Homo sapiens: one gene and its partners. The protein of the gene in region 3 interacts with the protein of the main gene of each other region in a biochemical or structural test. Each region holds a gene or a part of one and is shown on either strand. Other genes may lie near its edges. The genes, in order: DNAJC5, RIGI, PRKCG and SDC2.

What was found.
Region 1: of the proteins of PRKCG (region 3) and DNAJC5, one has a biochemical effect on the other in vitro, tested with the Homo sapiens proteins (one study listed by BioGRID).
Region 2: of the proteins of PRKCG (region 3) and RIGI, one has a biochemical effect on the other in vitro, tested with the Homo sapiens proteins (one study listed by BioGRID).
Region 4: of the proteins of PRKCG (region 3) and SDC2, one has a biochemical effect on the other in vitro, tested with the Homo sapiens proteins (one study listed by BioGRID).

Annotation. Positions count from the first base shown.
Region 1 is NC_000020.11:63,933,111-63,936,529, forward strand, and holds the end of DNAJC5 (dnaJ homolog subfamily C member 5), read left to right. Parts: 3' UTR 1-2,901; downstream 2,902-3,419. UniProt on the Homo sapiens protein: Acts as a general chaperone in regulated exocytosis. Acts as a co-chaperone for the SNARE protein SNAP-25. Involved in the calcium-mediated control of a late stage of exocytosis. May have an important role in presynaptic function.
Region 2 is NC_000009.12:32,516,175-32,523,207, reverse strand, and holds part of RIGI (antiviral innate immune response receptor RIG-I), read left to right. Parts: intron 1-7,033.
Region 3 is NC_000019.10:53,877,373-53,885,211, forward strand, and holds the start of PRKCG (protein kinase C gamma type), read left to right. Parts: upstream 1-4,824; 5' UTR 4,825-5,122; coding exon 5,123-5,292; intron 5,293-5,790; coding exon 5,791-5,822; intron 5,823-6,788; coding exon 6,789-6,871; intron 6,872-7,839. UniProt on the Homo sapiens protein: Calcium-activated, phospholipid- and diacylglycerol (DAG)-dependent serine/threonine-protein kinase that plays diverse roles in neuronal cells and eye tissues, such as regulation of the neuronal receptors GRIA4/GLUR4 and GRIN1/NMDAR1, modulation of receptors and neuronal functions related to sensitivity to opiates, pain and alcohol, mediation of synaptic function and cell survival after ischemia, and inhibition of gap junction activity after oxidative stress.
Region 4 is NC_000008.11:96,489,155-96,496,841, forward strand, and holds the start of SDC2 (syndecan-2 precursor), read left to right. Parts: upstream 1-4,658; 5' UTR 4,659-5,117; coding exon 5,118-5,177; intron 5,178-7,687. UniProt on the Homo sapiens protein: Cell surface proteoglycan which regulates dendritic arbor morphogenesis.

The DNA of each region.
Region 1 (3,419 bases), on a different chromosome or scaffold from region 3:
GGTCCCTGTAGAGATAAAGCTGAGGAGGAGGCTGTGTGTGATGGCTCTGGCTCGGACCAACCAGATGAGCCTCCTGAAGCCCCCTTCCCTGCCTGCCTGCTGACCCGTGGCCCCAGCTCACTCATTGCCCTCAGCAGCCACCCGAGGCTGTGCAGAAGGGTAGGTTCAGGTTGACCAGGAAGCTGCCAAAAGGGACATGGATATGAGGATACATCTGGACGTGCTTAGGAACAGGGTGCTGGTTGAGGGCCCCCAGCTGACCCCTACTGCAGATCCGCATGTGGACCATGAGCCGGCTGCCAGCACTAGGTCCTGGGCAGCTTTGTTTGTCCCACTTTTCTTTGTTTCTTCTCACTAAAATGATCACGAAGACCTTTGACAAGAGGAGAGATATGCACTGTGATATTAAATTAGAAATAATTTATCAAAATCAGACCTCTCCTAAAAGAATAAGAAATTCATTGTTTGGCCCATCCTGAAAGGTGAGGTGGCGAGACAGTGGGGTGCCTCCGTGCCGCTTCGTGCAGCAGCAAGTTCAGCCTGAGATGCTGGCTGTACTCAGCCTTTGCAATTTTTGTAGATGTAGCTTAGGACGTGAGTTATTTTTCCGCAGACTGGCCAAGAGCCAGGTTCTAAGCTTGGACCTAAGGTAGAAAGCTGCCCATCGGGGGCCCTAGCTCAGCCCCACCAGGCCCTCTGTTGGGCCTGCACACAGCTCTGTGGCTAGAACACTCCAAGGCCCTTCGGTACCCATCAGAGTGGGCCCCTTGCCAGGTGGCTTTTCAGTTACAGAGTCCAGTGGACCATTTTGTAGAACCATGCAGCTCCCTGCGGAAGGTGGGGTAGGGTGGGAAAGAGGAGCAGGTCTGGAGGTTTGTGGAACCCAGTCCCCTGCAGAATCTGTAAAACCTAATAAATCATGGTTGTGGCCATTCTCACGGTGGTGATTGTGATTAGACGACCCCCGGGAAGCCCAGACACTCGGGGCCTGGAGTTCCTCCCCCTGCCTGACCTAGAAGCAGAACCGTTTTCAGCGCTCTGCCCTGTTGGCTTTAAGGCTTTGTCTTAATTTAAGGAAAAAGATCCTCCCGGGTTTTATTTCTCTCTTTCTTGAGTGGACTGTTTCCCTATAATTAAAAGAGGTGGTGAGTCCTGGGGCAGCTTCCGCGCCTCCCTGTCCACGTGCTAACAGATCAGGACGCCCCCAGCACCCCTGCCTGCTTTTGCTGGTGGCAGTGACGGGACCCCGACTCCTCACTCTCGGGCCGCAGACAATGCTGTGAGCAAGTGTGGCCATGGGCACAGAATGTCCCTTTGGACGCCGCTGCTGGGGGCTGCCAGGGGCCCTCTGGGGTCGTGCTTTGAGGCCCGTCCGGTTCACGAGGGGGTCCGGGCAGCACTGACTGCTTCCGACCTGCAGGAGGCGTAGGAGCGGCCCTGCGGGCCCTTTCACGGCAGCTGCTGCTGTATAGATTTGTCTCCACTCAGTGACGTGGGATTTTTTTGTCTTCCTTTTGGCTTTATTTTTAAACTGCTTTAGATATTACTGCTCAGTGTTTGTGAACTTTCCTAGTTCTCTATGTTGTTAGTGCAGCCAGCACCCAGTGGGGACCTACTAGAAAAAGGAACTGGCATGCACACGTGCCCAGCAGGAAAAGCTTCGTCTTCACGTCGGCTGCTGCCATCCAGAAGAGGCCCTGGAGCCTCACGCCGTCGAGGCTGCTCTCAGGCGTTCTGTTCCGGGCGAGGCTTGTGCTGCAAGGAAGGGCACCAGCATGCAGGCTGCCACTGGAGGGTCCGGGTGCTGCGGGCAGAGTTCAGCGCTTGTCCACCCTCCCTTAGCTCTGACTCAGTGCATCCTACTGTGGGGACATCTCGTGAGGGGACACGAAATGACTGATCTCACCCTTTCCCAGTATTCAGAGCTGTGAACCCCTGTGGCGCAGGACTGGCCTGTGTCTGTTATTTTGGTTGTAAATCATTCTCCTGTGGAATTGGCAAAAGCTACATTTTTACTGTCCTTACCAGCAACAGTTTGCGTCGTCACATGCTGTGAGTGTGGGCTGTGGTGTGTCCGTGTGTGTACATATGTGTATATGTATATATCACGCAGCAGGAGTGTCATTCATGCTGCTGTCCCCTGGTGAAGTGACAAGTACAATTAAAGGTGGCTCTGAAATGGCCTCTGGTTTCTTGGGAGTCGGGCAGGGACCTGCAGGAGGCTTTCCCAGCAGGTGCACAGAAGGAAGCGCTGAGCCCACTGTGTGCAGAGGGTGTGTGCCCAGGGCACTGCCACGGCCCCCACCAGCATTGGCCTCTGCTCTGCAGGGTGGGGTGCCCATCCTGGGGGCTGTGTGTCATGCTCACCTGACCCAGGTGTGTGTCCCGGTGTGAAATCGAGGAGGGGACTGGAAGCCCTTCCCTGCCTTGAAACATGAAAGCTGATTTTCTGAGCAGCAGATACGGTCAGTGGCAAAGCTGCATCTGAAGGGCGGCCTGGGAAGGGGCCCTGTGCTGGCCCCGGGTCCGCCCCAGAGGAGTCCACACAGCACCACCTCCAGAAGGGGCTGGGCCCGGGGTCCTGCAGGCGGCACCTTTTGGTAGAGTTTGTTTCCCTGGAAAATGGGGAAAATGTTTCAAGCCAGGTGAGGGGGGAAGTTAACACTGAAATATGTATTGTTTTTAAAAATCAAATGCACACGCATGGAAGCTGCTTGTCCATGCACTGGTTTTGTCACTGGCGTCCTGGAATCCGACCGTGTTGGGGTGCAGGCGCTGTCAGACTCCGGCTGATCCTGGCTCGAGCACACACATCTAAGGGCCAGGCTGGTTCCGCATGGTGATCTCCGTCTTGTATGTCTGAATGTTGGCCTAAAATAAAGATTACTGTTGTAAAATAAATGTTTTCACTGCGGACCCCACGTATGTCTTACTCGCTAGTCCCGCAGATCCCTGGTTTTGGAGAGCAGCAGCTGATCTCAGCCCTCCACACCCCTTGCGGCTGGAACCTTGCTTCCCTCCTGCCTGGTCCAGATGTGGATAAATGCCCCCTCCTCTTGATTGTGTTTTCACCTCCGTTTTCTAAATACCAAGACTGGAGCAAAGAGGCCAAGCGTGGTGGCTCATGCCTATAATCCCAGCACTTTGGGAGGCCAGTGTGGGAGGATTGCTTTGAGCCCAGGAGTTCAAGACCAACCTGGGCAACAGTGAGATCGTGTCTCTACAAAAAAGAGTTTAAAATTATCTGGGTGTAGCCGTGCCTGAGGTCCCAGCTCGTCAGGAGGGAAATCACTTGAGCATGGGAAGTCCACGCTACAGTGAGCTGTGGTCACACCACCGAACTCCAGCCTGGGTGACAGAGGGAGATCCTGTCAACAAACTAACAAAAACTCAGAATAACGTAACAAACATCTTGAAAT
Region 2 (7,033 bases), on a different chromosome or scaffold from region 3:
CACTGAGACAACAAGTTTTGCCAAGGCTTTAATTGGGAGCTGCAGCAAAGGAGGTAGGAGATCAGTCTCAAATCCATCTCCCTGACCCGTTGAAATTAGGGGTATGGATAGAAGGAAAGAAATATAACTAGGTGTTGGAAAATGGACTCTGGAGGGGTAAGGAAGCAATCATGATAAATGAGGGGCCTGGTGTCTCATTGTCTGGATGTGATGGTCTGATGAGTTTCAGTTCTTTTATACCTTTTGAGAGGCCTGGGGGTCCTTTTCCTGGGGAAGGAACTCAGATAAAACAAATATAAGTTTCAGCTTTAAGATCAGGAGGGTCAATTTCCATGTTTATTCGAAAGAATTGTATATGGGACTATTGTGTTGGTTTCAGTCCCCCTCTTTCTATTTATCAATTCCTGGATCATGGGGAATCTGATCCTCAATCTTTCTGGCAGCTTCATGCTGAGGAATGGCGTGGTGGGCAGTTCCATACTATGGGTGACCACGTGGCCATCCAGGAATCAAAAGTTAATCTAATACTATAGTTTTCTTCTGAGACACAATCTGTATCATTACTGTTCCCCGCTTCCACCAAAGACATATCACAGCTGGATGGGCCTACCTGCAAAATAAGCCTCAGTTACATATACTTGGCTTATTTACCCACACAAAGTGCAGCAAAAATTATTGTCCATATGGGCTCTCCTAATTGGCTTTGCTGGAACCTCTCACAAGGCCATTTCAGTCAAAGCCCTGGGAAAATAACTTGTTCCTCCAACTGTGTCCCCTTATAAAAGAAAACAGATTTTTATTAAATGTATGCAAGAAAACACATTGCCATGAACTAAGAATATTCACAAATAGTTTATAAATTCTGGAGAAATTAGGGAGAGAGAAAATGCCTCAAATTCTGTTTAAAAGGGTATACTCTACTTAATATACTGTATTCTTAAAGGTTATGAAGAGCTTAAAAGAAAAAATTCTCCAGATTCCAAAAAACAAAAATTCTCCAGACTTTTTCAAACAAAACCATAAAAAATTATTTCAGTCCCACATTAGTTCAGTCCATGCAATCAACTCCTGCTGTGTTTCATATTGGGTTAGTAATCTTTATAAACATGTCAGCCTTTTAATTAAGAGGGACTCTAATTAAGAGTCCTAGAAGTTTTCTGTATTCCAGTGGCACAGTCTCCAAAGTTATCAGAAATCTGCATTCAAGACTCCTTTTCATGAAGTCCCCTAAATAAACAAGCTCTGGACTATATCTGATTATAAGTCACTTTTTGAAAAGAATCAATGCAAAACAACAATTGCAATGACAAAAGTCTTAGGAGAGCCATAAAGACACAGTTGACAAGGAAATTTTTTTTTCTGTTGGCATACAACAATTTAACATAATAATCATCATTACTGACACCATATATTAAGACATATCAGAATTTTAGGAATCTCATATAGTCCTGCAACACATATTAATAGCACATCTATACAAATATAACCCAAAGGAAGTTAAATACCACCTCACATTTGATAATGCTGCCTGTATAATTCTAATATACCAAAGAAGCCTAACATGTCTGTCTGTATTGGAATTCAAGGAAGCTAATACACAAAAAAGTTAGTTTGAGGTTAAAAAAAACCCCCTGAATTTAGAACTTGAAATATTTGCTGTTGGGAAGTCTGTCAGTATCAAAGATTTAAGACACTTGATATCACAAAATAGGATCACAGGTCGCTACAAAATAGTTATTCATTTAGCCAAAAAGATAAAACAAACACATTTACCCTTTGATAGGCGACTCAGTTTCCCAACAATAAGGCCTAATAAAGACAGCATGAGGCCAACTAAATGTCTCTCCCTCTTCCTTTTCTTCCCCCCACAGTTCACTCAAAAGGTAAACAAATATTTTATGTCAATATTATACAAACATTTTATTCAAAAGAGAACATCAAATTTTACCTTTGTATGGTATATTTTTAATGTTAAAGCTAATTTTAATAAAACCTTATAAGCCGAATTTTAATCAGTTTGACTATAAGATAGGATTTCTGTGAAGTTTTTTTTTTTTTTTTTTTTTTTGAGATGGTGTCTGGCTCTGTTGCCCAGGCTACAGTGGTGCGATCTTGGCTCACTGCAACCTCTGCCTCCTGGGTTCAAGCAATTCTCCTGCCTCAACCTCCCTAGTAGCTGGGATTACAGGCCATGCCACCACACTTGGCTAATTTTTGTATTTTTAGTAGAGACGGGGTTTCACCATGTTGGCCAGGCTGGTCTCCAACTCGTGGCCTCAGCTGATCCGCCTGCCTCGGCCTCCCAAAGTGCTGGGATTACAGGCGTGAGCCACCACACCCGGCCTGAGTCACCAGCCCCGGCCTGAGCCACCACGCCCAGCCTGAGCCACCACACCCAGCCATCTTTTTATAACGTTTTACGATTTCCTATTAAAGAGTAGAGTAATGCTCCAAGAAAACCCTGTTATGACACAGGGGCCCAGACATTGGCCTTGCATCAGTGTGCTTTTGATGTTAATGTTTAATTTATAGAAAAACCCTGAACTAATTTTATAACTCAAAATCAGCCCTTACAAGCTCACGTGCTCACCTTTTGTGCAATAGTTCCTGGGCGTAGAGGGATTGAATGGTTTTAATTTCTAGCCCTATGTCTCATGAAAGCAGTTCATTTTGATTGTCACCTTCTCCTGAGTCTGAAGACGAGGCTTCATTTGGTGTCAGTGCTCAAGATTTAGCAGGTATTGGTGTCTTTTTTGGATCCAGGAGTCAAAGGCCTTTGAATTACTAAATAATTGTTTCCTAAGAATTATTTAATAGCATATTTATACTGCAGGAAACCTCATCATTCTCTCTAATATGTCACAAAATAAAACCCTGGGATTTGGTGCCTAGTAGTTACTGTCTGAAACACTTCAACCCATTATACAATCCATTGTATTAAAGTGGTTAGGTTACTCCTTGCATTTATCTGCTAGCATTCTAGTGACAAAACTGTGACCTAGAGCCTCAAAAATGTGGTAAGTCCTGTGCCAAACTTACCAAAGTAAGATAGTTAACTTTTCTTTCCATCATTAAAAAAAAAAATGGTAAATGCAAGTATCAGTTTTGGAAATTCAATATGAAGATAAATCTTTCATTTAAAAAGTATACAACAAAACAAGGACAAAGTGACAATAAGCACACAGTAATTTCTTTTCAGCTATTTTGAAAGAGCCTCATCATACATTTCCAAGATTGGTTTCTAGATAAAGTACTGACAACTGATTTAAGTGACTTACACCACTAGAATCTTCAAACTGGCATAACACTTGTATGTACATATTTTGTTTTCAAGTATACATGTGAAGGCCCATCAGTGATAAATGGCTTAGGATAAAAAAAACACTAGAAAGTCTTATAATTTTTTTTATGACTTAATCCAAGTAAATGTTATTTAATCTTAATAATAGTAAACACAACTAAATTAGTTTGAGAGAAAGCCCAATCAATATAATTTCCTTAAAGACAAAGCCAATTTTTTTCTGAATATTAAGACTTTGTACCCATATAGCAGTTTTGCCTCATTAAAGGAAAAGATCTGAAACCGCTATTGTTTATTGAATTGAATTACCTTGGAAATAAACACCACTTAAACATTTCTCTCACCTACTTTTCCAAATAACCAATAATAATGTACTATTTCTGTTCAGAACTTAGAAGAATAAACCTTTTATTATTTTTTGCCAGGAATCTTAAAGTTCTTATAGCTCTCTAGTTCATTAGAGGTAAGCAAAACCAAACAAATTTTAAAGGCTGGTGTCCACCAACAATTTTTGGAAGCTTGAAAAAGGTAGCTTAGGAACTTTGGATAAGTAGAGCAAATGATGAGATACTGGAAATGCATAGGAAACAAAATGATTATTCATGGAACCAAATAAAAGCCTTCCTTACATTAGAAACTAAAAGCCATCAATGGTTTTATTAATATGTATATATAAGTAAAACCTAAAGAAGAAGAAACAGCAAATAAATGCAAATTAAAAGAAAAAACAAACAGGAAACCAACCTGAAAATTTTCTACTCAGTTTAACTTGGAGGCTATAGTGTTACCCAGAGCCAAAAAAACACATGATGAATATTTTGTTCCTGATGCACAATTTAATGTCTTTAAGTTCACCAATACCACTATATATTTTGTGCAATTAAGAAATTCACTTTAGGCTGGGCGTGGTGGCTCAGGCCTGTAATCTCAGCACTTTGGGAGGCCAAGATGGGTGAATCACTTGAGGCCAGGAGTTTGAGACCAGCCTGGCCAACATGGTAAAACCCCATCTCTACTAAAAATACAAAAATTGGCCAGGCATGATGGCACACAACTATAATCCCAGCTACTCTGGAGGAGGCCGACCAGTAAGTATTATACTGTAATGATAGTATATCTATGCAGAAGAGCAAATACAGTGTGAAGCAATGCAAGCATGTAGGTGAAATTTGGTTGTTGCTATATCTGGCTTTTATCTGGCTTCATGGTTAACTATATTAAGAAAGGATTGCCAAACTGCCAATGTGTTTCTTTACAATATTTCTTATTTTACTTTCATCAAGACTAAGAGCTTTAACTATGAGCAGTGTTAATTAGCCAGATTTCTCCAATATTCTATCTGGTTTTAAGAGAATATTATTTAAGCCTTTTATACTTTGTATTTTCTCTGTCTGTACATAAAGGTAGACACACAAAGAAATAGGAAAGAAACTACATGACTTACACACACCATCTATGATATGCTTAGACTTTCTGATTTGTCCTGGATTTTCGTTCTTTTTCTTCTTCTTTTTTTTTTTTTAAACAGTCATTTTACTTTAGGACAAAAAAAATACCATTATAAGATGCTTTGTCATACAAAATTATTTTCTTTATAACCTTCCTTACCAAAAATACATCTTTATACTCATAACTTTCTCCACATCTCTCTCGTCTACTTGTTCTTTTCTACCTTGTTTCATAAGTAACCTTTCAAGTCCATAATTATTAATAAACTTTAGATAACTTCTGAGTTAGATAAAATTTTTTTCTGAATAAAAACACATTGTCTTTTGCACATTTTATATATAGAATTACATATGAACTAGAATTCTTATCCTTAGTAACAACCTTAAATTTCAGTAAAAACCTAGGAAGCAAGAAATCTTGAGCTGCCTAGCAGATATTAGTATTTTATAGATGAGAACCATTCCACAATTTTTAGAAACATGTTCCCCACATCATAACCTTTTCTTAATTGGAAATGACTCAAACATCCAATGATTATATTTCCGATTATGCCAAAAGTTCATTTACAGCATTTGACCATTTACATTTTATTTATTTTTAGCAGTTTATCTAGATTATTTCTGCATCATTTCCTTCTTAACCATTTTATAACCTGTGAATGTCAGGTGTTCACCTAAATAACCTTAAAATTAATACGTGGGCATTTTGATCAATAACTCAGAAGATTCAGCTGTTTTCATTAAACTAACAGCATTAAATTAGTCTTATAAAGAATTCACACAAATATTCACTGGGTTTATAGCTTTATAACCTGCTGCCAAACTCTGATACCTCAAATTATCTAGCTGAGACAAATATAAAGCCGAGACAAAAATGTATGCTGACAATTCTGAAGACATTTCTATTTTTATTTTACCAATAATTTTAAAGACAGCTTGTTTATTAAAGATTTACTGAAGTCATGTGAACTTGAAAAACACTTTGGACTTAATTTATGAGCACTCTTATTTATAAGCCAATTTGGTAGGTATAGTGTATAACATAGTTAATGTACATCTAGATAAACACATCTAAACATGTATACACACACAAAGATCCAACAGCTTTTACCTTGGAACTCTAGCCATGAGATAGCAATACAAACTCACGAATCTACAACCAAGTCCACATGGCTAAAATTTGTTTGCTCCAATCGGTAATCCAATGAAGGCTGTGAACCAGAATTTTGGGTAAAGCAGTTTCCATGGCAGTTTGATTTTTAGAAGCTAGATTCCAAAGAAACCTGGGGCCAAACAGCACTACAGAAGAACGTCATGTGGAAACTACTCACCAGGCCCAACCCTGCTTAAAACAGCGGCATAAAAGCCAGAATACATGGGACTCCACCTGGCTTTCCCATTCAACAGCCAACTCCAGATTCCAAAGAATATTGGGGCAAACGTAGTACAAAAGAATATTTGTTTGTTGAATTCTAATTTCCCATTACTATATTGACACATACAATCAACAAAACACAATCCGACTGCTGAAGCAATAGACAAGCCCGAACAGTGTCCAAACTGAAACAGTCGAGGTGCTTTTCTCTCTCAATCGGGCTTTATTAACCTGCAAACAGAAATTTCTTAGGAATTTTCCAAATTGAGAGAAGCCGATCCCACTGTCTGGTACCCAAAAAAGACACTAACTTGGCCAGACACAAACACAGAAATTACAAACACGCTCTCTAGAGTATCATACTGAGAGTCAGGGTGCTTCCCTTTCTTAGTCAGTTGGGCTGGTTTAACCTGCAAATGGAAGCTCCTTTTAAAATTTTCAAATTGAGCAGATCTTGCTGTCTGGGCCAAGAAAGGACACTCACTTATCCAGATGCCAGTGTCACATTTCAAAGGCTGTTCTTCCTAGCAATCAGGAACTCAGCTGGGGCTGGCAGCAGCAGGGCCAGAGAGACCAAAACTCACTTCCAGCCAAAATTGGGTGGGCAGTTGCTTAGGAGGGCTTCTGAGACTCCTAGACCACAGCAACCCAGCCACAAAAATCTGTTACTGAAGCACCAGGGGTTTGGCCTAGGTCCTCCTGGTAGCCACACAGAAAGCCAAACAGGGAGACAACAAGTATTGCCAGGGAAGAAGCCTTTAATTGGGAGCTGTAGCCAAGAAGATGAGAGATTAGTCTCAACTCCATCTCCCTGACCCACTAAAATTAGGGGTTTATATAGCAGGGAAGAAATGTAACTGTGTGGGAAAACAGGAACTCAGGAAGCAATCATGATGAATGAGGGGCCTG
Region 3 (7,839 bases):
TGTAATAAATAAAGGCACAAGACAAAAATAAAGAGAAAGCAGCTGGGCCCAGGGGACCACTATCATCAAGACGCAGAGACCGGTAGTGGCCCATAACGGCTGGGCTCGCTGATATTTATTGCATACAAGACAAGGGGGCAGAGTAAAGAGGGTGAATCTTCGAAGTGATTGACAAGGTGAAGCAAGTCACGTGATCACGGGACAGGGTGCCCTTCCCTCTTAGGTAGCCGAAGCAGAGACAGAAGGCAGCATACGTCAGTGTTTTCTTCTATGCACTTCTAAGATCAAAGACTTTAAGACTTTCACTATTTCTTCTACCGCTATCTACTATGAACTTCAAAGAGGAACCAGGAGTATGGGAGGAGAATGAAAGTGAAGGAGGAGTGTAAGCATTGAAGCACAGCACCACAGGGAGGGGTTTAGGCCTCGGGATGACTGCGGGCAGGCCTGGATAATATCCAGCCTTCCACAAGAAGCTGGTGGAGCAGAGTGTTCCCTGACTCCTCCAAGGAAAGGAGACTCCCTTTCGTGGTCTGCTAAGTAACGGGTGCCTTCCCAGACACTGGCGTTACCACTTGACCAAGGACCCCTCAAGCGGCCCTGATGTGCGCGTGACAGAGGGCTCACCTCTTGCCTTCTAGGTCACTTCTCACCATGTCCCTTCAGCACCTGACCCTATACCTGCCGGTTATTCCTAGCTTACATTAGTAATGCAGCAAAGAGTAATATTAAAAGCTAATGATTAATAATGTTTATAATAATGATTGATAATTGTCCATGATCATCTCTACATCTAATTTGTATTATGACTATTCTTATTCTAACTATTTTGTTTATTATACTGAAACAGTTTGTGCCTTCAGTCTCTTGCCTGGGCACCTAGGTAATCCTCCGCCTACATATTTCCCGGACCTCAGGAGAATCACAAATACACAAATAAATATAAGCCCTACAAAATTCCCAGATCAGGCCCGGCGGGTGGCTCACGTCTGTAATCCCAGCACTTTGGGAGGCTGAGGCGGGTGGATCACGAGGTTAGGAGATCGAGACCATCCTGGCCAACATGGTGAAACCCCGTCTTTACTAAAAATACAAAAATTAGCCGGGCGTGGTGGAGGGCACCTGTAGTTCCAGCTACTCATGAGGCTGAGGCAGGAGAATCGCTTGAACCTGGGAGGCGGAGGTTGTAGTGAGCCGAGATCGCGCCACACTGCACTCCAGCCTGGGAGACAGAGCGGGACTCCGTCTGAAAAAAAAAAAAAAAAAAAAAAAAAAAAAATATATATATATATATATATATATATATATATATATATATATTCCATGATCAGCCGGCGCGGAGGCTCACGCCTGTAGTCCCAACACTGGGAGGACAAGGCGGGAGGATCGCTTAAGCCCAGGAGTTCAAGACCAGCCTGGGCAACACAGCAAGACCTCGTCTCTATTTAAAAAAAAGTTTTAAAGAAAATTCGATGATCACAGAACCCGCTATCTGCATCTACATCCGCAAAAGCAATTGGGGAGAGATACCGCAAGGGAGGGAAGGGTTCCCCTGGAAGGGGAGAAGGAAAGGCCAGCTGGGGCACACACTGTCGTTGGATGAGGAAAGGCCTCCTTTTCATTTCTGCAGCGTCCACTCTTGAGCTCCAACCCACTCCATCGCTGTCTTCTTAAAGGACGCCTCGCCCACCCTTCTCTCCCATCCCATGCCTGAATCCCTTCTGGAAGGCATCCGAAAGAACAGCTATAGAACTCTGGGGTGATACGTTGGTTAACTCGGGAAAGAACTCAAGGACACTGGACTAGAACGTGGTGGGATTCCTAGGTCGGTTTCGGGGCCATCCCCGCCGCCTATCCTTCGCCCTAGGTCACCTGGAGGTGGCTGGAAGGCCAGTGGACTCCACATTTAGGGAGAGTGGTTACAAGAGGACTCGGATTCCCCCACCTTCCCTTCGGCTTTGGGAATCCCAGGAAACCCGCCCCGAACCCCTGAAAAGTCCCAGAGAAGGTAAGCTGGGCGTCCAGAGTCCCTCCCAGGCGCCGCCGCAGCGTCCCGCCCAGCCTCGCGGGGCACGCCGGGAGGCGGAGTTCTCGGTCGTGTCCCGAGAGTGGCTGGTCCGCAGGCTCGGACTACCAGTCCCAGAATGCACTGCGCCCGCAGCCCGGGGCGGGCCGTGGTTGCCCCTGGCAACAGAGAGGGTCTCCCGGGAGCGGGGACTGGGAAGCGCTCCCGAGCCGGGGAGGCGCAGAGCCCGACCAGAGAGAGGCGGGGACGCGGGTAGAGCGACCAAGAGGTGTGGAGGCCGGAAGAGACTGACCGCGCCGGCCCTTGGAGAGACCCCTTTCCTGAGAGGGGGCGCACAGAGAGGATGCCGAAGCCAGCGAGATCTAGAGAGAGGGAGACAGGGATTGAATCACAGAGACACTTAGAGGGAGGGAGAGACCTCAAAGACAGAGAGATTCACAGGGCCAGAGAGACACGTAGAGTGGGTCAGAGAAGAGGACAGAGGACAGAGACATAGAAAAGACAGGAGGGAGAGAGACTGAATCACAGAGACACAGGGAGAGAGGGAGAGACCTCAGAGATGGAGAGAGACTCACAGGGCCAGATAGACACATGGAGTGGGTCAGAGAAGGGGACAGAGAGAGAGACACAGAAAAGGGAAGAGGGAGAGAGACTGAATCACAGAGACACAGAGAGGGAAGTCTCTATCTAGAGACCCTCGACAGAGATTCCTAGAGCCAGAGACAGAGATTCAGAGAGCCAGAGACACAGAGAGATTCATAGAGACATATAGAGAGATTCAGAGAGCCTGAATCACAGAGATTCACAGAGCCAACGAGACAAACAGAGAGATTCATAGAGCCAGAGACACAGATTCGGAGAGTCAGAGAGACATAGAAAGATTCATAGAGCCAGAGACACAGAGATTCAGAGAGTCAGAGAGACATAGAGAGACATTCATAGAGCCAGAGACACAGAGAGATTCATAGACATATAGAGAGATTCAGAGAGCCTGAATCACAGAGATTCACAGAGCCAAAGAGACAAACAGAGAGATTCATAGAGCCAGAGACACAGAGGGATTCGGAGAGTCAGAGAGACATAGAAAGAGATTCATAGAGCCAGAGACACAGAGATTCATAGAGACATAGAGATTCATAGAGCCAGAGACACAGAGATTCAGAGAGTCAGAGAGACATAGAAAGACATTCATAGAGCCAGAGACACAGAGAGATTCAGAGTCAGAGAAACATAGAGATTCATAGAGCCAGAGACACAGAGAGATTCAGAGTCAGAGAGACATAGAGAGACATTCATAGAGCCGGAGACACAGAGAGATTCAGAGTCAGAGAGACATAGATTTATAGAGCCAGAGACACAGATTCAGGGAGTCAGAGAGACATAGAGAGACATTCATAGAGCCGGAGACACAGATTCAGAGTCAGAGAGACATAGACATTCATAGAGCCAGAGACACAGATTCAGAGAGTCAGAGAGATGAATAGATTCAGAGAGCCAGAGACACAGGGAGAGTGAATCACAGACACAGAGGGACGGGGAGATCCCCAGAAACAGAAAGAGATTCATAGAGCCAGAGAGACAAATAGAGATTGGGTCAGAGAGAAAGGGACAGAGACAGAGACAGAGAAGAGAAGAGGGAGAGAGATTGGGTCAGAGAGAAAGGGACAGAGACAGAGAAGAGAAGAGGGAGAGAGAGACTGAGTCATAGACAGGAGAGAGACCCCCCTAGCATCAGAGAGAGAGAGAGAGATCAACAGAGCCAGAGAGGGACAAGTACAGAGAAACAGATGGAACCAGAGAGATATAGGAAGAGACAAACAAAAACAGAGACGGAGTTGCAGAACCGGAGGAAGGGAGAGAGACAGAGACAAAGGCATTTATAAAGACGGGTGGAGGTGAGGAGAGAGAGGGAGAGACAGGGGCAAGCATTTAGAGAGTGACTCCCAGAGAGGAAGACAGAGACGGACTCCCAAAGAGATCAAGTTGCAGAGGGAGGGGGAGACAGAGTCACAGCCTGAGAGAGAATAGAGATTCACAGAGCCAGAGAGACAAAGACAGGGAAAGAAACAAACTCAGGGAGACAGAGGCGGAAGAATTTATCAGACGTAGAGGGAGAGACAGAGGGAGACTGATTCACAGTGAGGCAGACCAAGACCCCGAGAAGAACCACGACACCAAGACCCAGAGATGGCGACAGATACAGATGGAGACACACAGCAGAGGAAATAGAGAAATAGAAAGAAATAGAAACAGCATTTCTCGGAGACAGGGAAAAGAAAACAGATCCACTGAGAGGCAGAAACAGAGACACATCGAGAAAGCTCGCTCCAGGAATAGAGGGAGAGGGACAGAGGTCACAAGAAAGACACACGCAGGCAGAGAGCTACACAAATAATGGAGAGGCCAGGGGAGGAAATAAAGACTCAGCCGGCATCGGAGAAAGTGAGAACCTTAGCGCCCTGCCTGTCCACTGCTGGACCCCTAGCGTGGAGCATAAAGTTTGTTGAAGGAAGGAGAGGGGCAGGGTCAGACACAGGGACCCCAGGGCGCCCACAGGACACACGAGGCACCCTAGTGGGGGAGGAACGCGGGGCAGGATGACAGATTGCAGGGTGGTGGGGGGGAGCCAGGCTCAGAGGATGCCCCTCCCTCCAGCCAGCCCCCGGAGTGGGTGTGTGCACGTGTGGGGGGCGGGGAGGGAGGACATTTGTCCCGTGTCTCCGGGAGGGGAGCGCCTTTAAGCCGAAACCCCGCCCTCTCGGTCGTCCTGGCAACGCCTCCCCCAACCCGGGGCTCCCACATTTCAGCAGGTGCCGGAGCTGGAGCTCCCACCGCCGCCGCCCGTGCCTCCGGCTGCCGGCGCCCCTGCCTTTGGCTCTTCCTCCCCACTCGCCCGCTCCCCCTGGCGGAGCCGGCGCGCCCGGGGTGCCGCTCCCTGCCTGGCGCGCTCCGCACCTGGAGGTGCCTTGCCCCTCTCCTGCCCACCTCGGAATTTCCCTGTGGCTCCTTTGATCCTTCGAGTCTCCAGCTCCTCTCCCTTCCACCTGTTTCCCCCAAGAAAGGCAGGATCCTGGTCCCTGCTACGTTTCTGGGGCCATGGCTGGTCTGGGCCCCGGCGTAGGCGATTCAGAGGGGGGACCCCGGCCCCTGTTTTGCAGAAAGGGGGCCCTGAGGCAGAAGGTGGTCCACGAAGTCAAGAGCCACAAGTTCACCGCTCGCTTCTTCAAGCAGCCCACCTTCTGCAGCCACTGCACCGACTTCATCTGGTGAGGGAAGGGGGCTGGGGGACTGGGGGACGAGGGGACTAGGGGTGCAGACTCCTATCACGCCGACCCCTGTGGAAGGAAGAAGGAGGGGGCTGTAGTCCCGACTCCCAGGTTCTAGGATGGCCAGGGAACGCTGGGAGCTTCGACTCCTGGGTTTCAGTGAGGAGGAGGCTGGTTCCTGGAGTGCTGGGTCCGAGGGAGGAGGAGGCTGGAGGACAGAGGTCCTGGAGTCTTGGGTCTGAGGGAGGAAGGGCCTGGGGGGCTGGGAGCCTGGATTCCTGGGTCTGAAGGAGGAAGAAACTGGGGGCTGAACTCCAGTCTAAGGGAAGAAGGGCTGGGGGCCAAAATTTCTGGGTTCTAGAAAGAGGAGGTGGCCGGGGCTTGGACACCTGGGCCCTGCGGGAGGAGGGTCAGAGAGCGCAGGCCCCCTGTGGCTCGCAGAGGTTGGGGGTCCAGGTACCCCTTTCTGCACTGACCTAGGATCCCTGACTCTTCCAGGGGTATCGGAAAGCAGGGCCTGCAATGTCAAGGTAAGAGCTGGGGACCGGGGCTCCTGGGACCCTCAGGAGGGTGGAGGCTGGGGCCCCACAGCTGAGGCTGCTTGACACACGTGTTCTCTGGTCCCCAGAGAGGCGCGGGGGAGCCCGGGGCGGGGGGTGTGGCAGAGACACAGCCTGTGGTGGGGAGGGAGCTTTGATGGTGGGGCCACCGCGGAGGTGGTGCTGGGGGCCCCTCCCTCGGCCGGCTCCAGGTGGGGACAGATATTTGGAGAATCTGTTGCCATGGGAACATGGAGATTTGGAAAAGGGGAGCTGAAGGGGGGAAGGGGGAGGGGGCTGGAGATGCAAAGTCAGAGCCCCCCCCCACCCCAGGCTGCCGTCGCCATGACAACACCAGCCGTCCTAGGCAGGGGCAGGCCGGGTGGGGTCACCAATGGGCGAGTGGGGGCCGGGCGGGGCCGGCAGTTCTGGGGGGCGGGAGAGGGGGGCGAGTCCTTGAGCACCAGCTGCTACTGCTGAGAACAGAGTGAGTCAGGGTGGGGGGCGGGCCGGCAGCAGCGCCCCCAGACTCACTTCTGCCCAAGTTGCTGCTTCCTGGGCTGCGTCTGAAGATATTTCGGTTTTCGCTCTTTGAATCTGTCTGCCTCTCTCCTGGCTTTCTGATCTCCGTCCGTGGGCCTGTGTCTGTTTGTCAATGGGATCCTATTTTCTTTCTCTCTTTTTCCATCTCCCTTCCCTGAGCTCTGTGCTCTGTGTCTCTCTGTAAGTCTCTGCGTCTCTGTTTCTGACTCTGAGCCCATCTCTTGGGTTTCTGTCTCCTGCTTCTCTCTCTGGCCTCCGATTTTCTCTCTGTTGGACTCTCTGTGTTGAGATCCCTCTCTTTCTGGTTTTCTCAGTGTCCGAGTTCCGCTCTCTCTTTCCAATTTTCTGTCTGCTGGGGTCTCCCGCTGGACTAATCCATGCCTCCGTCTGTGTCTCTATGATTTTCATCTATAGTCTGCAGCTTTGTGGTTCATCGACGATGCCACGAATTTGTGACCTTCGAGTGTCCAGGCGCTGGGAAGGGCCCCCAGACGGACGTGAGTGCTCGGACACCTGGTTCTCCTCCTCGGGCCGTGCCCCCGCCCTCACCCCCTCGGCGTCCGTCCCAATTTCTCCTGCTATTTTTATGGCTGGGAGGGGAGGGGGGCTGGAGAGATAGGGGGAGCTATCTGGCCCAGATTCCTTGCCCTTGGCCTGGAAAGGGGGAATGCGAGGGGGACTGACAGGCTGGGGACACGGGTGGGGCACAGAGAGGAGGCCGGGGTGAGGAGACTGAAGATGGGTGCTGCCGGGGGTGGGCTGTGATCCAGGGGTGAAGGGATTTAAAAATTGAGAGCTGAGGGGCACACGGAGAAAAATATCAGTGCAGGTGCGGAGATGCCAACATAAGACAGAGGGAATCTCAGGGAGAGGAACAGAGACAGAAGAAGACAGAGACCTAGGAGAGACTGAAGCTGAGGCAGAGAGAGAGAGAGATGGAGCAGAGAAAGAACCAGGGAGAAAGAGAGGAATTTGGAGGCACCAAAAGATGGACAGAGAAACTCCAAGAGACGGAGACACAGACACCTGGAGAAAGAGACTAAAATAGAAAATGGTGGATACAGACAACAGCTTAGGAGATGCTGAGAGGAGACCCAGGGAAGTCCCACAGTACACTTGCACACATGTGCGTGCATGTACAGATGCCCCTGTCATCACAGATGTGCAGCACGCAGAGACACACAGCCTCTCCCCACCCCCTCTCTCTCCATCAGAGGCTCACAAGACCAGTCAACCCTGAGTGCCCATTCCCGTTCCCTTTTCTGCTTTATCTCTGAGCCTCAGTTTCCTCCTCTATAAAATGGGGCTGATGATCTAGCATTGACCAACAGAACTGTTTACAGTGACGGAAGCATTCTGTACATGCACTGTCCAATAGGCAGCCACCAGCTCCATGTAGCCAGTGAGCACTTGAAACAGGGCGACTGTGGCTGAGGATTAGAAATTCCATTTCGTGTCATTTGAA
Region 4 (7,687 bases), on a different chromosome or scaffold from region 3:
CCCGAGTAGCTGGGACTACAGGTGTGTGTGCCACTGCTGCACCTGGCTACATATTTTTAAAGAGCATGCTGTACACCATAAATATATACAATTTTTATTTGTCAATTTAAAAAATAGTACCATTTTACATAAAATTAATCAAGGTTAGACTTTCCTGTTCAACTGGATATATACAAATGCAATGCAAAATAACTTGAAGATACCTCTGTGGTACCTTCCTGGATTCATACATCCAAATCTATAACATTCAAATATGGCTCTTTGGATATGTATTTTAGTCCATAAATAATGTTTTCTTTAAACTTTATCTGATTTTAGAATGAAATTCATCATGTACTTTAGTCACAGATTCATGACTTGAGAACAACTCTTAGTTTAAAAATGTATTAACTCTAACAAGGTTCAAGAAAATTCATGTGCCTACCCAGTGAGTACCTGAGTTGCAGCAGGTGATCCATACATATTTGTTGACTGAATGTCAAATTTTGCCAGCCTTTAAAGAACCATACCACACTGTTAGAAAAACTGACATGAAGGGCCAAGTGTGATGGCTCACACCTGTAATCTCAGACCCTTCGGAGGCCAAGGGGGAGGATCACTTGAGTCTAGGAGTTCGATGCCAGCCTGGGCAATATAGTGAGCCCTCGTCTCTAAAAAAAGAAAAAAAGAAAAAAAAGAAAAAGAAAAACAGAAGTAACTGTTTTATCTCCTGTCTTATTTTATGTATTATACACTTCCTTGATTTTCCTGTGTCCTCCTATCCAAAACTGTAACAATTTTGTTCAACATTAGCACCATATCATTTTATGAAACTCAAATCAGCCAACTTCTCTGGGAAGGGGTTGATGGAGGTGAATAAAGAGAACAGTGGAAAGTTTGAGGCTGAAAATAGACTTTTTTTTTTTTTTTTTGGAGACAGAGTCTCGCTCTGTTGCCCAGGCTGGAGTACGGTGGCATGATCTCGGCTCACTGCAACTTCTACCTCCCGGGTTCAAGCAATTCTCCTGCCTCAGCCTCCCAAGTAGCTGCGACTACAGGTGCCCGCCATCACACCTGGCTAATTTTTGTTGTGTTGTTCTTAGTAAAGACGGGGTTTCACCGTGTTGCCCAGGCTGGTCTTGAACTTCTGAGCTCAGGCAATCTGCCTGCCTCGGCCTCCCAAAGTGCTAGGATTACAGGTGTGAGCCACCGCGCCAGGCCTGAAAATAGATTTTTTTGGATTGCCTGTAGATTTTGGTCATGGCCTCAGCTCACTTGCCAGTATTAGCGATGGCTCATTAATGGTTGGCTGGATGGATATCCTATTCCTCTCAGCTTCTATCATCTTTCAAGTGAATTTCATAAGAGCCAATCCTACCAAATTGATTTCTAGCCTGGACTCCTGGTAACAGTCCAGGGGGTGCCAAGTGGAAGAACAACCGAGAACAACAGAATGGCATCTTTTTTTTCCGCTATCCCCTACTCTGACAACTCACCTCAGGACAGAACACCTGTTTATCCACGGTTGTAATGTGGTATCATTTGTTACCGTAGTGACAGAGTCCGATGTGTCAGTTTAGGTTAAAAACTGTCTTTAGTAGCTTTCATTTCTATTTTTTCACTTGTCTGGTTCTCTTTATTTTTTATTTGTTTTTACATGTTTGCATCTTAATCTCTATGTTGTTTATTTTTAATATTTTCTCCTGAGACTCTTGAAGTGTGGTAATTATTCTTTTAGCAATCAATGAAGCTATTTGGGAAGTGATTGGTTAAGCTGTGCCCCTCAAAGCATAGCCCTCAAAACCTGAGGACTTGAAGTATATTTGCAAAGAACCTTTGGTTCTAGTCACAAGCTATACTTAGTGAATTAGATATACTACACAAAATTCTGCCAAATTTTAGTCCCCATCAGTTTTTTAAACATTTCCAATTAGCAAAACACACAAACAGGCCTACATCGTTTGCGAATTTAGACAAATCCTGACTAATACCAGCGGACCTCCCCTGACTTCTGTCCCCATCCCCACTCAGCATGGGTGACCTCTTTGTAGCCAGCTCTTGTGTAAGTGCTTTTTATACTGTCAGATTATCCTTCTTGCCACAGCTGTTAATAAATCTGAACACAAGATCTTGAATATTTGTTTTCATCTCCTTAATATTGTGTCACTCAAAATGGTACCAATTCCCTTATTATATATACTCTCAATGGAGTATTTATCATCTTTAAAGAAACAAGTCACTGAGCATCTCATCAACACCAAGAGCCTTGGGGTGTGCCTTCAGGGCAGCAAACAGATAATATCCCTTCAACACGTGTATCCACTTATTCATTTTTTATCACTGTCTGCCCAAGCTGAATCAGAGAGCATTCACCACGCTTCTTGTTACATGGGTGCCCCAGTAAACAGCAATAACTGTGAGAACCAGCAAATCAGTGGAGTGCACTTCCTGTTTTACTGGAATTCCAATTTATTTGATGAATACTTAACTGTTGGGGACAATGGAGGTGTGGCCTTGCCTGAAGGCTGGCGAGTAGACGAGGCCTCTTATGAGGACAGAGCTGGTATTTTATGGCTCTTTGCATGTATTTTGCATTGCTGCTTTTCCTTTGGAGGCCTTTTTAAGAAGTCTCCCCATCTCATGAACCTCTTCAACCCACAGACTCCATCTTAAAAATAAGGGCACTAGGCTGGTGGCTCACGTGTCTAATCCCAGGACTTTGGGAGGCTGAGGCAGGCAGATCACTTGAGCCCAAGAGTTTGAGACCAGCCTGGGCAACAATGGAAAACCCTGTCTCTATAAAAAACACAAAAATTAGCTGGTGTGGTGGCCTGTGCCTGTAGTCCCAGCTACTTGGTAAGCTGAGGTGGGAGGACTGCTTGAGCCTGAGAGGTAGAGGCTACAGTGCAGGCCACTGCACTCCAGCCTGGGCAAGAATGAGACCCTGTCTCAAAAAAAAAAAAAAAAAAAAAAAAGGCTGTGGTTCATTCTTTCAAAAGCTAAGTGGAGCCCACATTGGCACAGATGCCAGCTACAGTGTCTGTGGAATCAGAAGCATCATCTGATGTTACAACTTCTGGCCTATTGCTCTTTTTCTTCTTTCTCCTTTGCCTACTCTTCTATTTCTCCATATTACCTTTTTGTTGGCCAATGCCTTAGACTTGCTCATGAGCATTTGTAGGTTTGGTAGCTGGCACACAAAACCAAAGGAATAAGTGTCTCCAAGTTTGAGTTGTAATTCTCCAGTTAAATTTCTTTCTTTGAGATTTATTACAGTAATAGGTTACTAAGACATTTAATTCTCACTGAGGGTATGACTGTATTTTATTCTAATACTGAGTTGAAAAATTACCATGGCCTCATATCTATATATCTACATTGGTGTATTTTAAAGGCTCACAACTCTTATACGGTATAAATTGAGCTTTAGAGCAAAATTTATTCAAGATAATATTTATCATGTGTCTTTATGTACCAGGAATGAGAATACAATGGTGAACAGACAGAAAAGTCTCTGGTTTCCTGTAGTGGGCATTCCAGGAGCAGAATGGCGTCATAATTCATTTACTCTATAAGTCAGAGAGAAAAATGATGGCACGAACTGCAAGGGATTTGTGTGTAAAATTTGTGACAGTAAGAAAAAGAAACTGGAAGGGAATACGCATTTGCCATGTTCTATAATATGCCACAGACATTGTAACAAAATATTTCATGTCAGCTACTTCCATTTAGGAAATACATGTTCATTATTTTCTTCAAACTAAGAATTACTTTATCCCTCTTTTCTTTGAAGTTATCTTAAATCTGTTATTATTCAGGGTCTCTATCCAACTTCTCATCAAATTACCCTATTTGTAGCTTCCAAACGTTAACACCTATCTGCTAAAATGGAGCCTATAAAAAGCCTTAGTGGCATAAACTGTGTGTGAGGGAGAAATGGTATTTAAGCCCTTAATGAAGTTAGGAGCTTTCAAACTGTTGCACTTTGGGTTTACAGGATCCTTCCTCCATGTCCCTTTTTTGGGGGTGCGGAAGGATTTGGGAGAATGGGAAACACTCTCACTATATATTTATTACATTAATTATCTTCTCTTTTAAAATGCAATTTTCATGAACTGGCGATTTATGAACACTTCACATTGCTTGAAAGCATCTTACACTTTTTTTTTCCCTCAACTCACAAAGCAGTTTCTTTCTACTGGTCGAATTCTCAAGGCAGAAAAGCTACATACGTCTCTCGTTTCTTCACTAATTGTTCTCTAGAAAAGGGAAAGTGAAGAAGGGAAAGAGAAAAGACAACGGGGAAGAAAAGAGCATAGAGGAGAGAGGAAAAGTGGGGAGAGAAAGGAAGAAAAGGACTGAGAAAACGCAGGAGCCCTGGCTTGCCGGTGAGCAGAGCCGGCGCAGCCACAGCGCGGAGCCGCGGCGCCCACTGGTCCTCGGAGCTGCCAATCGGCGTGTAATCCTGTAGGAATTTCTCCCGGGTTTATCTGGGAGTCACACTGCCGCCTCCTCTCCCCAGTCGCCCAGGGGAGCCCGGAGAAGCAGGCTCAGGAGGGAGGGAGCCAGAGGAAAAGAAGAGGAGGAGAAGGAGGAGGACCCGGGGAGGGAGGCGCGGCGCGGGAGGAGGAGGGGCGCAGCCGCGGAGCCAGTGGCCCCGCTTGGACGCGCTGCTCTCCAGATACCCCCGGAGCTCCAGCCGCGCGGATCGCGCGCTCCCGCCGCTCTGCCCCTAAACTTCTGCCGTAGCTCCCTTTCAAGCCAGCGAATTTATTCCTTAAAACCAGAAACTGAACCTCGGCACGGGAAAGGAGTCCGCGGAGGAGCAAAACCACAGCAGAGCAAGAAGAGCTTCAGAGAGCAGCCTTCCCGGAGCACCAACTCCGTGTCGGGAGTGCAGAAACCAACAAGTGAGAGGGCGCCGCGTTCCCGGGGCGCAGCTGCGGGCGGCGGGAGCAGGCGCAGGAGGAGGAAGCGAGCGCCCCCGAGCCCCGAGCCCGAGTCCCCGAGCCTGAGCCGCAATCGCTGCGGTACTCTGCTCCGGATTCGTGTGCGCGGGCTGCGCCGAGCGCTGGGCAGGAGGCTTCGTTTTGCCCTGGTTGCAAGCAGCGGCTGGGAGCAGCCGGTCCCTGGGGAATATGCGGCGCGCGTGGATCCTGCTCACCTTGGGCTTGGTGGCCTGCGTGTCGGCGGAGTCGGTGAGTGGGCCAGGCGGAGGATGCGCGCGCCGTTTAGGGTGTTTGAAGCTACGAGAGGAGCCCGCAGGGAATAGGGGAGCGCCACCTGGGGAACCCCCAGTCCCCAAGTATACACCGGAGATCCGCTGGGACAAATGCGCTCGTCCGGTCACCCTTTCCCCCTCTTCCCTTCCTCAGAAAAGCGCTGCTCGCTGGCGTTACCCCGCGGTCCGCGGGAATGGGGGCACCGAGAATTGCGGTTTGGTCTAGCCGCAGAGGCCCCTGAAGTCACTCCCAACTTCTTCGCCCTCGGCGGGTCTTGCTGCGTGGTCTGGGAAGGACGGAGGGGAAAGGGTGGCAGGAGGGGGGAGCCTGGGTCGGGCCCGCGAGGGAACGGCTCCACTCCGCGCGCTCCTCGAGACCAGGGATGACCTGGAAACTTCGGGGTCCCTTCCTCCGCACACCATCCCCCCCGCGCCAGCTTTCCTGTTTGACTGCATGCAAGTTCTGGGGAGATGGGGGCCAGATTTAAGAGACCCGCGAGTGTCCAGAGAGAAAAGTTTGCAAAAGTTCTTTTGTTTGATGCTCCCTGCGGCTAGGGCGAGGTAACCGACACTACGTGGAATCGCAGTAGGCGATCCCTCAAGGGGATACTGGGGGAGGCACGGAACGCGTCCGAAAATGCTGGGACGCCGGCCACTGGATTCCCAGTCCTGCGGCGACCCCCTCCTCGTTGAGGGGTGGAGGTTGCACCGCGGGGCGTCAGGGACGGGAGGACATTTTCATAGGAGTTACACGGGAGTGCCGCAAGCAGGGCGAGGCGGGGTACGTGTGACACGGCGCTCGGCTTCGGGTCGCCTGGCCGCTGGGGGACAGAGGCTTCCCTCCCGCCACGCTCGCCCTCTCTGGCCCTGGCGGGGCGCTTCTGGGGCCGGGAGGAGTCTCGTCTCCGGCGGAGCGCCTGCCGGCACCCAGCTTCCCTCCCCCGCCCTGGCGGTGGGAACTTGATTTCTCCTTTTGGTCGCGCTTCGGGGGCTGGAGCTTGTTTCCCCACGTCGCCCAATGAGCGCCCTCTAAAGGGAACTGCCTCCTTGGCCTCCTCTCGTCCGCAGCTGCCTCCACCTGGGCGCCAGGAGCTCTGTCGGGCCAGGTGGAAGCTTGAGCACCCCAGATTTCGTCTGCAGCCTCAGTGCCCTCTGGGGTCTCAGGGAGTGCGGCTGTTTCTGGCCCTTCTGGTTCCCCACGTCCTCTCCCTTTGCCATTTAATAACGTGTCAATTTCTAATTAATTGAATGGTCTTTTCAAAGACAAATTATATCATCTTAAGGTCTTTTAGGTAGTTTTATGAGTTTGAGTCTCCCTCCCCCCCTTTTTTGTGCTGAGGCTAATTTAGGACTGGGAAACCTCTTTGGCATCGAGCGGCAGATGGACATTTTTAATCAGTGTGGGAGCCTCTGTGTGTGCTAGCAGATCCCCATACGTTCTTTGTGGTTGGAGAGCATGTAGAATTGGAAACTGTACAGACTACATGAGTATTTTGGGTGCTCAGGTTGTAAAATAGAACTCCCAGCCTTATCAGTGTTTCCCTTTGGCAAATGATGGTTTAATCCGTTGGTATTAGTTATCTCCCAGCCAGTTAGGATGAACTTTGGCTCTTTGTACACCAAAAGGCAGCAGTTCTCTTGTTTATTTCAGATGAGCGTTGTTGCTCCTCTTGTTGCAAAACAGGGCAAAGGGACTTCATCTAATAAATTTCAAGAGCCTGCCTAAAAAACTGCACATGGTTAAGGAGGCCCTTTTTTTTTGCTGAGTCTTATTCATGGATTTGCTAGGAAATGTTACTGTTTTGGGATTCTGGAGAAAGAATGTTTCTGTCTTCTGCTCCTCTGGGTTTTTGCATAAATCTACCAGTGCTCCTTAAGGAAGTTTTTTGGCCGAACTATATACCTGTCCTCCCCGGTGACAGCTTTCCCCTGAACTGTGTATCTTTGGGGTTCTAATATTTCTCAATTTGAACCAGAACTGGATGCTTTCCGAGTGAACTGCTTCATTGTGATAGACACTGTTTTCAGTAATTGGAAAATCATCCAAAAAGGGTGATTAGATATTTATAAAATGTCAACTTAGAGACTAGCAGAGAATCTTTGTTAGGCAGTGAGTCAGTCTTTCTAAATAGAAGCTGTTTCAAGGCCCAGAATGGCTAACAGTCCATTTAAATTACTTTTCAGTCTCCGTTTGTTTCATGTATAGCAGCAAAAATATAAATGAAGTCAAAAGACTGAATTTAAAAAAAAATTAGCAATTACAGAATATTATTTCCAGGACTTTGCATTTTAATTTGAAAACTGCAACTGTTTCCTGGGATTTAGAAGTAGTGATTTGGGTTTAAAGTCTCCCTTTAAAGGAAGAAAGGAAAACTGCCTACAGTTAGTGAATTCTTAAGTTTTATACTTAGCTCTGGGGGTAAAAAAGAGGTTCTCAGGAACTAAGGCTCAAAACTGCCTATGAAAAGGAACTGGTAGCTGTTCCTT